3 linked regions of the Homo sapiens genome follow. The protein of the gene in region 2 interacts with the protein of the main gene of each other region in a pairwise test. Each region holds a gene or a part of one and is shown on either strand. Other genes may lie near its edges.

Region 1 (3,753 bases), on a different chromosome or scaffold from region 2:
GGACCAAAATTGAGTTGTTGCGCCATTAAAAAACGTATCTGATGAAGGTGGATCAGTCCTGGTTGAGATTCAAAAACTGAGACAACATGACACAGCTAGAGAATGTTGTTTATTCCTTGTCCTTCTTGAGTGAAGCTGGACGTTGGCTGCTTCGATCTGATTCAGATATATATATATATATATATATATATATATATATATATATATATATATGTACTTTTTCTTTTTGGCTATAAATGTCAACATCTCTTTGGGATCCTAACTGCAGGTTGGAGTTGAATTTTGTGCTTTTCCTCCACCAGCTTGGTTGGTCACGATGTGTCTCTTTTGCTTGTTTCAACACATAGCCCAGGCCCAAGATTACAGCTTCCAGGATACATTTTTCAGGTGTGTAAACAACTGTCACAGGGCACTTGGCACCTAGATTTGGAGGTCATATGTTGAAGATTTGACAATGGTTTTGTTCAGAGGGAACTCCAGTTCACGTTTGGGTGTTTCCAGTAATGGCGTAAGACAAAAAGATCACAGTTATATTTTTTTCTATCTGTATATATGTATATACCATTGCACTGAGTACTTTTTAATAAGCTGTGGTCTGTTTCAATAAAAATCTACATATTACTCGTCTAACAGGAGTTTAACATTAATTTCTATTCATGCAGCCTGGCACAAGCTTTCTACTACCACAAGCAGACAGTTACTATTGCGATCCCTGTAAACTCCTTTCTCAGTGGTGTTAATGATCCCATTTCCCTAATGTTTATTTTGGCGGCAGTAGAGAAGGAAAGGATACTGTCTGGGGCGTCATCAAGCCCACCGACTGCAAGGGGAGAGAAGGGGTTGTTCGTGCCTACTGGGAAGTCACCAGATAGCTGTCTAAGGTACTGAAATCAAACCCTGCAGAGTCAATAGGGATCCTTCATCTGCTTCTAGCAACTCTTAGGGGAAGAAGAATGAATGTAGAAAACTGGGGACATATTTTAGGATTTAAAAACAGTAACTTCAAAAGAGTAGTAACCTACTGGTAGTGCAATGACTTCACAGTATCTCAGTTGTGGTACTGTGATGGGAGCAACACCGTTTGTCCTGGGATGAAACATTGATTCTTAATTTGGAGTGTACTGTTTGTTGAGTTGCACTCTGGAGGAGGAGGAAGGTTCTGGAACTACGTGCTAATCCCATATTTCTCCCTGCTGATTTTACCACTATTTAATGTGCACTAATTACTTTTTGGTAACTACTGACTGCATTCAAACGTAACATCAAGGTGTGATCTAGATACAGTCAGTCTGGGCTGCTGTTGATGACAAAGGTGATTTCATTTGTTCTCTATTGAAAACATTGTACTTAAGAATATTAATTATTCTCTTCATTTTAAGTACAGAGAAATTGATGTATTAGGTGCTTATATGAATTGGCCAAAGATGTGGATCCAGTCTTAAGATTTTTATTTATTCTGATTTTGTATGACTAGGTTTCTTCTTTTCCATGATTGTTTATTCACAAGGAAATTATAAAAATTTAAGGGGGAAATCCCCCACTATATTAAAATCATTACTTCTTCAATGCTCTTCCTTCTTGGCTTTTAATAATAAAAATAGCTTGTACATGCTCAGCGCTTGGAATTTACTTTTGCGTACATTTTCTATGTCTCCTAATTCACAAGATTGTTGTTCTACCACTGGCCCCTGCTGAGGTCGGTCAGTGGTGACTTGGGGCCTTCCCCCCTTGTTCTTTTGGATTGTATTAAGCACTTCTAGAGACATGATGTCATGAAGTTACGTATTAGGAAGATGGCAAGAGCAGTTCATAGACACTTTATGACAATTTATTGATGATGATCATATATATGTGGCCTTTGATCCAAAGGTGAAGACTTTTATTTGGACTTCAATCTAAGGAGGAGTGAGCCCCTAGTCTGGTGTAATTTACCAACTAATGCTATGTCCTGAAATTCCACTGAGATTAGTGGTCTTAAAGTATCACAGTACATCCCTGACTTTACAGTACATGAAGCTTTAATATGGCTTAAGCAATGGCAGGGGTGGGGGTGGTTCTGTATTTCTAATTCAAGTGTCTAGATATTTTAGGAATATTAGAGTGATTTTACCTGTCACTGAGTTGTCAGAAAGATTATAGTAGGGGATCTGCCATTGGGTCAGTCCTCTAGGAGTGGGCAGATCTTGATCAGTACAGTATTGGAGTGAGGTTACATAATTAATAGTTTTTACATATAGCCGATTTTTTTTTTTTTTTTGAGACGGAGTCTTGCTCGGTCACCCAAGCTGGAGTGCAATGGCACGATCTTGGCTCACTGCAACCTCCACTTCCGGGGTTCAAGTGATTCTCCTGCCGCAGCCTCCCAAGTAGCTGGGACTACAGGTGTCCACCACCAAACCCAGCTAATTTTTGTATTTTTAGTAGAGATGGGGTTTTGCCATGTTGGCCAGGCTGGTCTTGAACTCCTGACCTCAGGTGATCCTCTCGCCTTGCCCAAAGTCCTGGGATTACAGGCATGAGCCACCGCACCTGGCTATATATACCAGATTCTTGAGCAGATAATTAAACCTCCTCCACCACAAAACTTGAAAATAAGGTACAAGAAGGCATGACATGAGAATCCACCTGCCCCTTTTCCCATCTGACTGTGATGCTGAGGTGTGGTGGAATTAGCCAAAAGATGTAGGAAGAAAACTTGGGTGAGCTACACCCAGAATAATTAATACTTAAGTCATCAAGGGTTGATTGTACTTGCAGGAGAACGGGTAACTTTCCCACATAAAGCTGAAATGCTAGTACAGAGAAATAGCCTTCCATTTGCTATTACAGGATCAATGTGCAGGTTTGATCACTTTTTTTTTGAAGCATTTTCTTTTGCCAAGAATAAAAATCATGTATAGCTATTGCACTACCAATAGGTCAATTCATGCTACAAATGTCCATGTGTTTCTAGGATGCCAGTGGCTACTGCTACCAGAAATAACTCCAGTCACTCCCTTGACTAGTGTTGCTAGTTTGGTCTTTAGGGTTTACCTAAGTGAGAGCATCAATGATGGGTTAAAGTCACAGACCACAATGAATAAATCACAGTCTGTGCACACTTTTGGCCAGGAAGAGTGGCAGTGGAATCTTGCATGTCATTTGGTTGAAATTAAGACTAAATCTCTATATGTGCACACACCCACACTCACACCCACACGCACACATATCACAGGGTTATAGCAGAATGAAAACGGTGGGTAGGAATCACCAGTTGAAGGCTGTAGGTTTAAATGATCAGGATTGGCACACTCAGATCAGCCCACCAGTGGTCTTCACTTTGTGAAATGGAACTAATGCCACAAGGAAACTGCATGGTTACTTCATCTGTTTACACATCTGCTTATATGTTCAGCTGAACTGTCACTGAAAACAGGAGCACCATTCTTGGGACATGAAACAAGGAGGAGGGGAAACATTCAGATAATCAACAGTTAATAGAACAAGTAAAAAAATAAGCCAACAGCAGGTGCGGCATCTCTGGTATGCAAAACAACTAATGAAAGTGTTCAAAGGAATTATCAAGGCAGGCCATTAAGACTATAAACCATCAAAAGAGCAGCAGCAATAGCAAGAGAGAAAGAAGAGGGTTAGCAAGAGACTAGATCTTCCTGAAAAAGTGGCCTTGGCTCTACAATTGTCTACCTTGTGCTGTCCTTAGAAGAACAGGCCCAGTGCTACAGAATAAAAATCTCCATGCCAAGCCACTGCCTT
Region 2 (3,753 bases):
AAGCAATTTAAAAAATAGTTTATCGTGCACTTGCTCTGTGGCTGCCTGGGACGCAGGCGCATAAAGCTGCTTCCTTCCTGCTGGAGACAGGCCCAGTGCCCTGTGCGGATGGTCTGCAGGGCCCCTGGGGCAGGAGCAGTCACAAGGCTTGGGCTTGAAGAGCACAAGATCTTCAGGCAGGCGGACGGGGGGAAAGGACAGAGGGAGTGTGTGTTTGGGATGCGCTGTGGAGCCTGGAGGTCAGCCCTGCTGCGCACATGAACAGGCTTTGAATTTGGCTCATCTCTAGGGGAGCCCATGGGAAGCTAGGACCCCATTCCTGAAGGGCCCCAGCCTTCCCCTGCAGACAGACTGGAGAGGCGGAGTCTAGAGGCCAAGACACCACCTCTTAGGCCAGGCGTTTGTGCTCTGAGCATCGGACTCGCCGATGGCCTCCTGCAAGGCCTGTAGCCTCCCTGTTGCCCAGTTTTCCCGTCTGCGAAAAAGTTAACGCATGCATAGCGCTGAGCACGGTGCCTGTCACAAACTACGCTCTGAAGAAACGTGAGTCGTGCCCGGTCGTGTTAAAACCAGCAACACAAGAGGGATTCGTGTTCGTTGTGACTTTCCTGTCCAACTTCCTGAGTAGCTACTGGATTTCTTGGTGCTGCTTTTCTGGGGGAGGGTCTGCTCTGACTGGTGGGCACAGCTCACAGTTAGGCTCAGGCGCACCCCAGTGTGGCCACAGACGGGGTACTGTAAGCTGCCCTTGGGTTCAAGGCCTCCAGAGCTGTTTTGAGCTAAAATATCAACCCAGGCCATCCCCTGCTGACGGGACTGTTCCAGTGAACATGAGAACTGGTCCTAGCTGCCTCCAGGCTCTTTAGGGTTTGTTGCAGGATTTTCAGGTTGGCTGGTGGTGTCGTTGCCACCTCAGCGTGGGCACAGCTGGCCAAACACTATGAGGTGGCTGCCCTGGGCAGGGCAGACTGTGGAGTGGCTTGTTGGAGGCTGGGTGCCCGCTGAAAGCCCAGGCCCTTCAGAGCTGCCTGTGGGTTGCTGTTCCTGTTCTCAGGCCGGTCTTGCTTTGTGTGGTGTAGTGGTGAATTGACCAAGCCAGTCACTGCTCATCTGGTGGTGTTGGGACAGGGCGAGGGTGAGGTCAGCCAGCCCTGGCCGTGTGTGGGCGGCAGGAAGCAGAACTCCTTGAGAACTGAGAGGGAAAGCGGCTGGAGCCAGAAACACTTGGGTCTCAGGGGGCAGTGAGGGGAGGTGGGTATTTGCAGGACATCCCTGGGAACTCATGTTGGGACACTCCACATAAGACCTTGGCAGGGCAGGGGTCTGGGTTAGTGTGGGACTGTGTCCTGCCTGGGCACCCGGAGCCACAGACCGCAGCCTGAGAAAGAACTGTGGGCGCAGCAAGGCTGCGGGGGAGGGTCTGGGGTCGTCGCCAGTGGCCCCTTGAGCTCTGCTGTACTTGAGGAAGTGCCCCTTGGTTCTTTTCTGGCCTCCAGGAAGTCCTCTGCCAGCCTGGGAGGGTTCCCCTGCTGTCCCCTGCCCTTCCCTGCCCTCCAGCATTGCTGTTCAGTGTCTGTCTTGCTTTAGGTCTCTGCCTTAACGCCATGGGGACACTGCATGGACAGCAAAGGCCTCTCCTTGGTCTCTGTGGCCTTTGTGTGTCACCTTGTTTCCTTTGACTGTAACCCCCATCCCCCCGCGGGGCAGCTGCTGTATCCTCTGTGCCTAGCGTCTAGCCTGGTCCTGGCAGAGGCCTGCTGAATGTTAGGACGCAACACAGGCCGAGCAGAACAGCAAATGGTCTTTAATCCTGCTTTAAGTTTTAAAAAAAACTGTGGTAAAGAACACATACCATAAATTTACCATTTTGAGCCAGGCATGGTGGTGCACGCCTCTCATACCAGCTACTTGAGAGGCCAAGGCGGAAGGATTATTTGAGCCCAGGACTTAGAGACCAGCCTGGGCAACATAGCAAGACCTTGTTTCTAAAAAACATTTTGTTTAATGACCGTTTAATCATCCGTGAGTGCAGTCAGTAGGGTTGAGCACGCTCTTAGTGTTACACAACCCATTCCTTGCCAAACTGAAACTGCACCCATTCAACGCTCTCCCTTCCTCCTGCTGCCCAGCCCCCTCGTTGCCATCTGCCTCAGGGGACCTGACGGCTCCAGGGCCCTCTTGCGAGTGGACCTGCGGGAGCTGTCTTTTTCTGACTGGCTTATTTCACGGGGCACAGTGTCCTCCGGCCCGTCGTGCTGCAGCACGGGTCGGTGGTCATTCCTCTTTATGGCTGAATTATTCCATTGCGGGGAGAGGCTGCATTTCCTTGACTCACTCATCCATCGGCACAGCAGGTGCTTCCGCATTTTGGTCATTGTGAACGGTGCTGCTGTGAACATGGCGTGCAAGTGGGACTTTCAGACGCTGCTTTTTTATGTTTGTTTTTGGTTTTTGGTTTTTTGTTTATTTTTGTTTTTGTTTTTGACGGAGTCTCCCTCTGTCGCCCAGGCTGAAGGGCAGTGGTGTGATCTCAGCTTACCACGACCTCTGCCTATTGGGTTCAAGTGATTCTCCTGCCTCAGCCTCCTGAGTAGCTGGGATTACAGGCGCCCACCACCATGCCCGGCTAATTTTTGTATTTTTAGGAGAGTTGGGGTTTCGCCACATTGGTCAGGCTGGTCTTGAACTCCTGACCTCAAGTGATCAGCCCGCCTCAGCCTCCCAAAGTGCTGGGATGACAGACGTGAGCCACCTCCCCTGACCCTGAGTTTTTTTATGTATTCTGAATATTAATCCCTTATCAGATATTAATTCCTTATCACATTTGCAAATATTTTCTCGTTTCATAGGTTACCTTTTGCTCTGTTGTTTTCTTTGATGTGTAGAAGTTTTAAAGTTTGATGTAGTTCCCCTCTATACATTATTTTGACTTTTATTTTGTTTTATTTTATTTATTTATTTGAGACAGGGTCTTGCTCTGTTGCCCAGGCTGGAATACAGTGGCAGGATCTCGGCTCACTGCAACCTCCACCTCCCGGGTTCAAGCAGTTCTCCTGCCTTAGCCTCCCGAGTAGCTGGGATTACAGGTGTGCACCACCATGCCCGGCTAATTTTTTTTTTTTTTTTTCGTTTTTTTTAAGTAGAGACGGGGTTGCTTCATGTTGGCCAGGCTGGTCTCGAACTCCTGACCTCGGGTGATCTGCCCGCCTTGGCCTCCGAAAGCGCTGGGATTACAGGCGTGAGCCACTGTGCCCAGCCCTTTTTTGACTTTTAAATCACTCTGGATTCACAGGAAGCAGCAAAGGTAGCACAGGGGGCTTGTGTACCCTTCACCGAGTTTCCCCCCAATGTTTACCTTTCCGTAACAGCGCAGCCCCAAAACCAAGAGAGTGTCGGTGCAATGCGTGTAGATCCGCGTAAGCACCAGGAAGGGGGTGCAGGCTATTTTCAGACCCATCTTTCTAGTCCCACCCACTCCCAACCCTGATGACCTCGCCTCCCGTCCGGCCCGAGTCTCGCCTCTCGGGAGTGTTGGCTCACGTGTTCCTGAGCCTGTCTGTTTTTAGTTAGTGTCCGGCGCTTGGGACCGTGTAGGTTGCCGTGTGTGGCAGGAGTTTGAGGAACAGCATCTAGTGTTTAATTTATAAGAGCTTGCATTTAAAAAAGAAAGTAACCGCACGGAATGCATTGCTGAACTTGAAGTAAACGTCGTGTTCTTCCATTACGAAAGCCACCTTCTCAAAGTCCTGGCAG
Region 3 (3,753 bases), on a different chromosome or scaffold from region 2:
TACAAGGAATATAAAGTTGCTAGTTTACATATGTATATGTAGAAATTTTAGATATATAATTTAATATGCTTTACTGCCTGAGATCTGTTGGAAGAATCCTCTATTAACCTTGGTCTTGGAATTCTGAAAAAGTCTGAGCAAGATTTCTCCACTGCTCCAACCTACTTAAATGTAATTATGTATATGTAATTGCACATGGAATTAAACAGAAAAGAAATATTTTCGCTGGCTCATACTCTTTGCTGTTAAATCATAAATGCATCTAGAAATACAGACAAATATCTATAGCTACAACAATCCTGAAGGTTTTAAATGGAAATTCAAAGAATTAGGGTCATTTGTCTGTCTCAAAATCTATGAATACAAACAGACACACCAACACCAACACAGACACACATAAAGGTATTATTTTAGTTAATACAGAAGATAGCATACCACAAAAGCAATCCCTGAATGCATCTGGAGATGGTCTTTAAAAACTAAGAATTGTATGTTTAGATTTATGTTCACCTTTACATCACTATTCCCAATCTTGTCTGCTAGTTAGGCTACAGAAAATCCTGGAACTCACCAGTACAAGGTAGTATGCATACAGGGACGCACAATGATGCATTATAAAAAATTTGTCACCAATCACTTTCCAATACAAAATTATAATGGACAAATCTGTAAGAAAGAAAAGTGAGTAAGGTATTACATAAGAAGAAAGTTGCACTGTTTTTCAAATGTATTGAACTCTTTCTCCTGCCAACTCATCACTGTCCACTCTGAGCCCACAGCACTTTGTTCATCCCTCAGTTAGTCTGATTATCTACTTTACCATAAAATCTCTGCTCCTATATGCCTGTCTCATCCACACTCCTGTGGCTCCTCTAAGACAAGGGCCAGGTTGTGAGCATCTTTAAACCCTCAGAATCTAGCACAAGGCCTGGCATGTAGGTTGGTGCAAAAGTAACTGTGATTTTTGCCATTATTTTTAATCACAAAAACTGCAATTACTTTTGTACCAACCTAATCATATGTAATATAATATTTGTTGAAAGCATAAATGAATAACTTGTTTCCAGAGTTAAAATAAACAAAAAATATTATTGAATAGAAATAATTTTAAATAAGCTTAAGTGACTGATTTTTGTCACTACAATAATTCAAACAGAGATAAGATGGTCATAGGGAAGGTACAAAATGACCAACTCATTTATAAAACAAATCGTACAAAAAATATTTTAAAAATAAAAAAGAATGCAATTAAATACTAATTCAAAATAGTGACGCCACCAAAAACTATAACTATTAAAAAGAAAAACAAAGAAAAAAGCTTACTTCTGCAAATTTTACAAAAACAACACAAAACCATGACTACTGGAACACATTTCAAGAACTCTTGCAAGTGAGGGACCCTAAAAGTTAAATTTCGTTAGTTTCACAGTCATTACACTTAAGAGCCTCATTAGGACAAAGAGGGACCATATCCTTGCTGATAAAAAATGTCCAGGCCTCAGTTGTTTGAGGCATCACTCTGTAACTCTGATCTTCAGTGAGAAACAGAAAACCATTTCATGAAAAGACATTTCATGTTCTACCATCATGGGAGGTATTTTTTTCCTCTGTATGCTTCCTAAATGCTATCTCTCAAATAAACCAAAAGCATAGACTATATATTCTTTGTATAATTCCGTGAGTAGTTTACAAGGAATTAGACAATAAAACAACATCTCACATACCAGAAATGAGGTAGCCTGAGGCAATAGCAATATTCACGTTTGCAAGTGATGGACCACCCCTGAAAAAAAAAAAAGGTTCCTTTTTAAAGTATATAGATTGTAGATGACCGCTACTTCTTTTTTCTATAGAGATTTAAATATAATAAAATTGCTTTCTATAGATTCTCAAATGGTAAGCTGTCATCTTCAAATAAAATTGCAAAACACACAATGACAGTTTAGCCAAACTGTGACGCATCATGTGGTACTGGTGTTAGCAGTAAGGTAACTACTGCTGTTATCTTACATAGTAAGATAGTTACAAAGTGAACTACTAGTGAAAGTAACACTAACTAAAATAGCTGGACTACAAATATTTAATAGAAAGATTTAGCACAAGTTGTGCCTTCTTTACAAATTTTGATCTGTAAATATAACCAGGAAAATTTGACCTGGAGTAAATCATGACATAAAATTCAAATCAAAAATTATGTTAAAGTTCGATAAGGCAAAACTTGAACAATGAATCAAATCTTTGTTATGAAATTTACTTCCCAAAAGAACTGGTTTTATTTTGCTGATGGTCACGTTAGTAAAATGAAAACGAAAATTTTTAAAAAGCTAGAAATTTTGTAGGTAGACTATTTAAAAACCTAGTCATGGAATTAAATTCAATAAATTAATTCTCTTTGAAAAACAGCATCCCAATGAAAATGTATCAATACTGATATTATTCTTCTGGGAATAATTTTATATTTATGAATAGAAAAACGTCCTTGCAGTCAAATGGTGGTGGTCAAAAGAAAAGGCTAAATTGCCCTACATCCCCCGGAGCCCACAACTACCTCATCTCAGTGCAGTGCTTCTTCAAACATGCCTGCTCTCTCAAACTAAGCTGAACTAAGCCTTCTCATATAACACCAGGAAACAGTTTGCAAAATTTCTGCCATTGGAATGACATTTAAATTTTTCTAAAAGGACCATCTTACATGTTATCCTATTACTACTGAACACAGTTATTATTAGTGCATTAGTGCTTCAAATCCTGTGGTACTAAATTCCTATCACATGGCCATCTGTAACTCTCATTTCATCTCTTTGATATCAAATGAGTCAAACATAAATTGGAGACAAAAAAGTCTTAAGTAGATATTATCCAAGTTGACTACCCTATCTCAATAATGATTTATTTTTCTTCAGAACTGTGACTACAATAACTTGGCTTTACTCATTAACACAGTAAAAATGTTTAAATTATCATCATATTCTCCTTGTTTTGGATAACAATTGCTACACTAAGGCAAAATGGCCTTCATTTGTGTTCAAATCTAAAATAAATCATTTAAATGCACTTTGCTAGAATGTCTGAGCACAAGCATTTTAATAAGGCATATACGATCAATATGTTTTCTGTTTTAAAGTAAGTGATGTTCTTATAAATAATTAATATCAAAACATAAATGAAATTGGCAATCTTAGAAAAAGAAACAGCTTACCAAAGTGGATCAGCTTTAGTAGCCTCATCGAATAAGAAAATGTACAGGCCAAAAATACCAACCACCAAAGAATGGCATGTGGATACTACCCTGAAATTAAACAAAATACACACAAAGATTTTAGATTCTTTGCAATAAAATTTAATCCTGACAAGACACAGAACATTCTGAACAAGTTATACCTGGAAGCATTTATATACAGGTGTGAAGTATAACGGAGAGTATAATGCAAAATTGCCATTTCTTGCCATTTAGAAATCCAAAGGCCACAGCTTTACTTTGGAATAAAGAAGGAGGAAGATACCAAGGCCTACAATTTCCTGCTAGAGAACTGGTGAATCACTTATTGGTTAAAAGTTCTAAGACAGATAAATGCATACATGATGATGCAGCTGACAGACTTTTGTGCAGCCAGATGGCAACTGGCAAGGCCACTACCCTTGGCTCCAAGCTCCAGCCCCAACAGCATCAATGCAGGATAAGTTTCCTGCTCCAATCAGCTGGGAATGACTTCCAGATCTACTGGCTTTAACAAACTCCATATCCTTAAAACA

The links.
Region 1: the proteins of CLCN7 (region 2) and KCNN3 interact in binary tests that used the Homo sapiens proteins (3 or more experiments, as listed by UniProt).
Region 3: the proteins of CLCN7 (region 2) and TLCD4 interact in binary tests that used the Homo sapiens proteins (3 or more experiments, as listed by UniProt).

What each region holds. Positions count from the first base shown.
Region 1 is NC_000001.11:154,702,536-154,706,288, forward strand, and holds part of KCNN3 (small conductance calcium-activated potassium channel protein 3), read right to left. Parts: 3' UTR 1-3,753. UniProt on the Homo sapiens protein: Small conductance calcium-activated potassium channel that mediates the voltage-independent transmembrane transfer of potassium across the cell membrane through a constitutive interaction with calmodulin which binds the intracellular calcium allowing its opening.
Region 2 is NC_000016.10:1,468,414-1,472,166, reverse strand, and holds part of CLCN7 (H(+)/Cl(-) exchange transporter 7), read left to right. Parts: intron 1-403; exon of another isoform or gene 404-543; intron 544-3,753. UniProt on the Homo sapiens protein: Slowly voltage-gated channel mediating the exchange of chloride ions against protons. Functions as antiporter and contributes to the acidification of the lysosome lumen and may be involved in maintaining lysosomal pH.
Region 3 is NC_000001.11:95,148,238-95,151,990, reverse strand, and holds part of TLCD4 (TLC domain-containing protein 4), read right to left. Parts: intron 3,290-3,753; coding exon 3,200-3,289; intron 1,784-3,199; coding exon 1,725-1,783; intron 667-1,724; coding exon 572-666; intron 1-571. Other genes in the region: TLCD4-RWDD3 (TMEM56-RWDD3 protein), read right to left, coding at 572-666, 1,725-1,783, 3,200-3,289.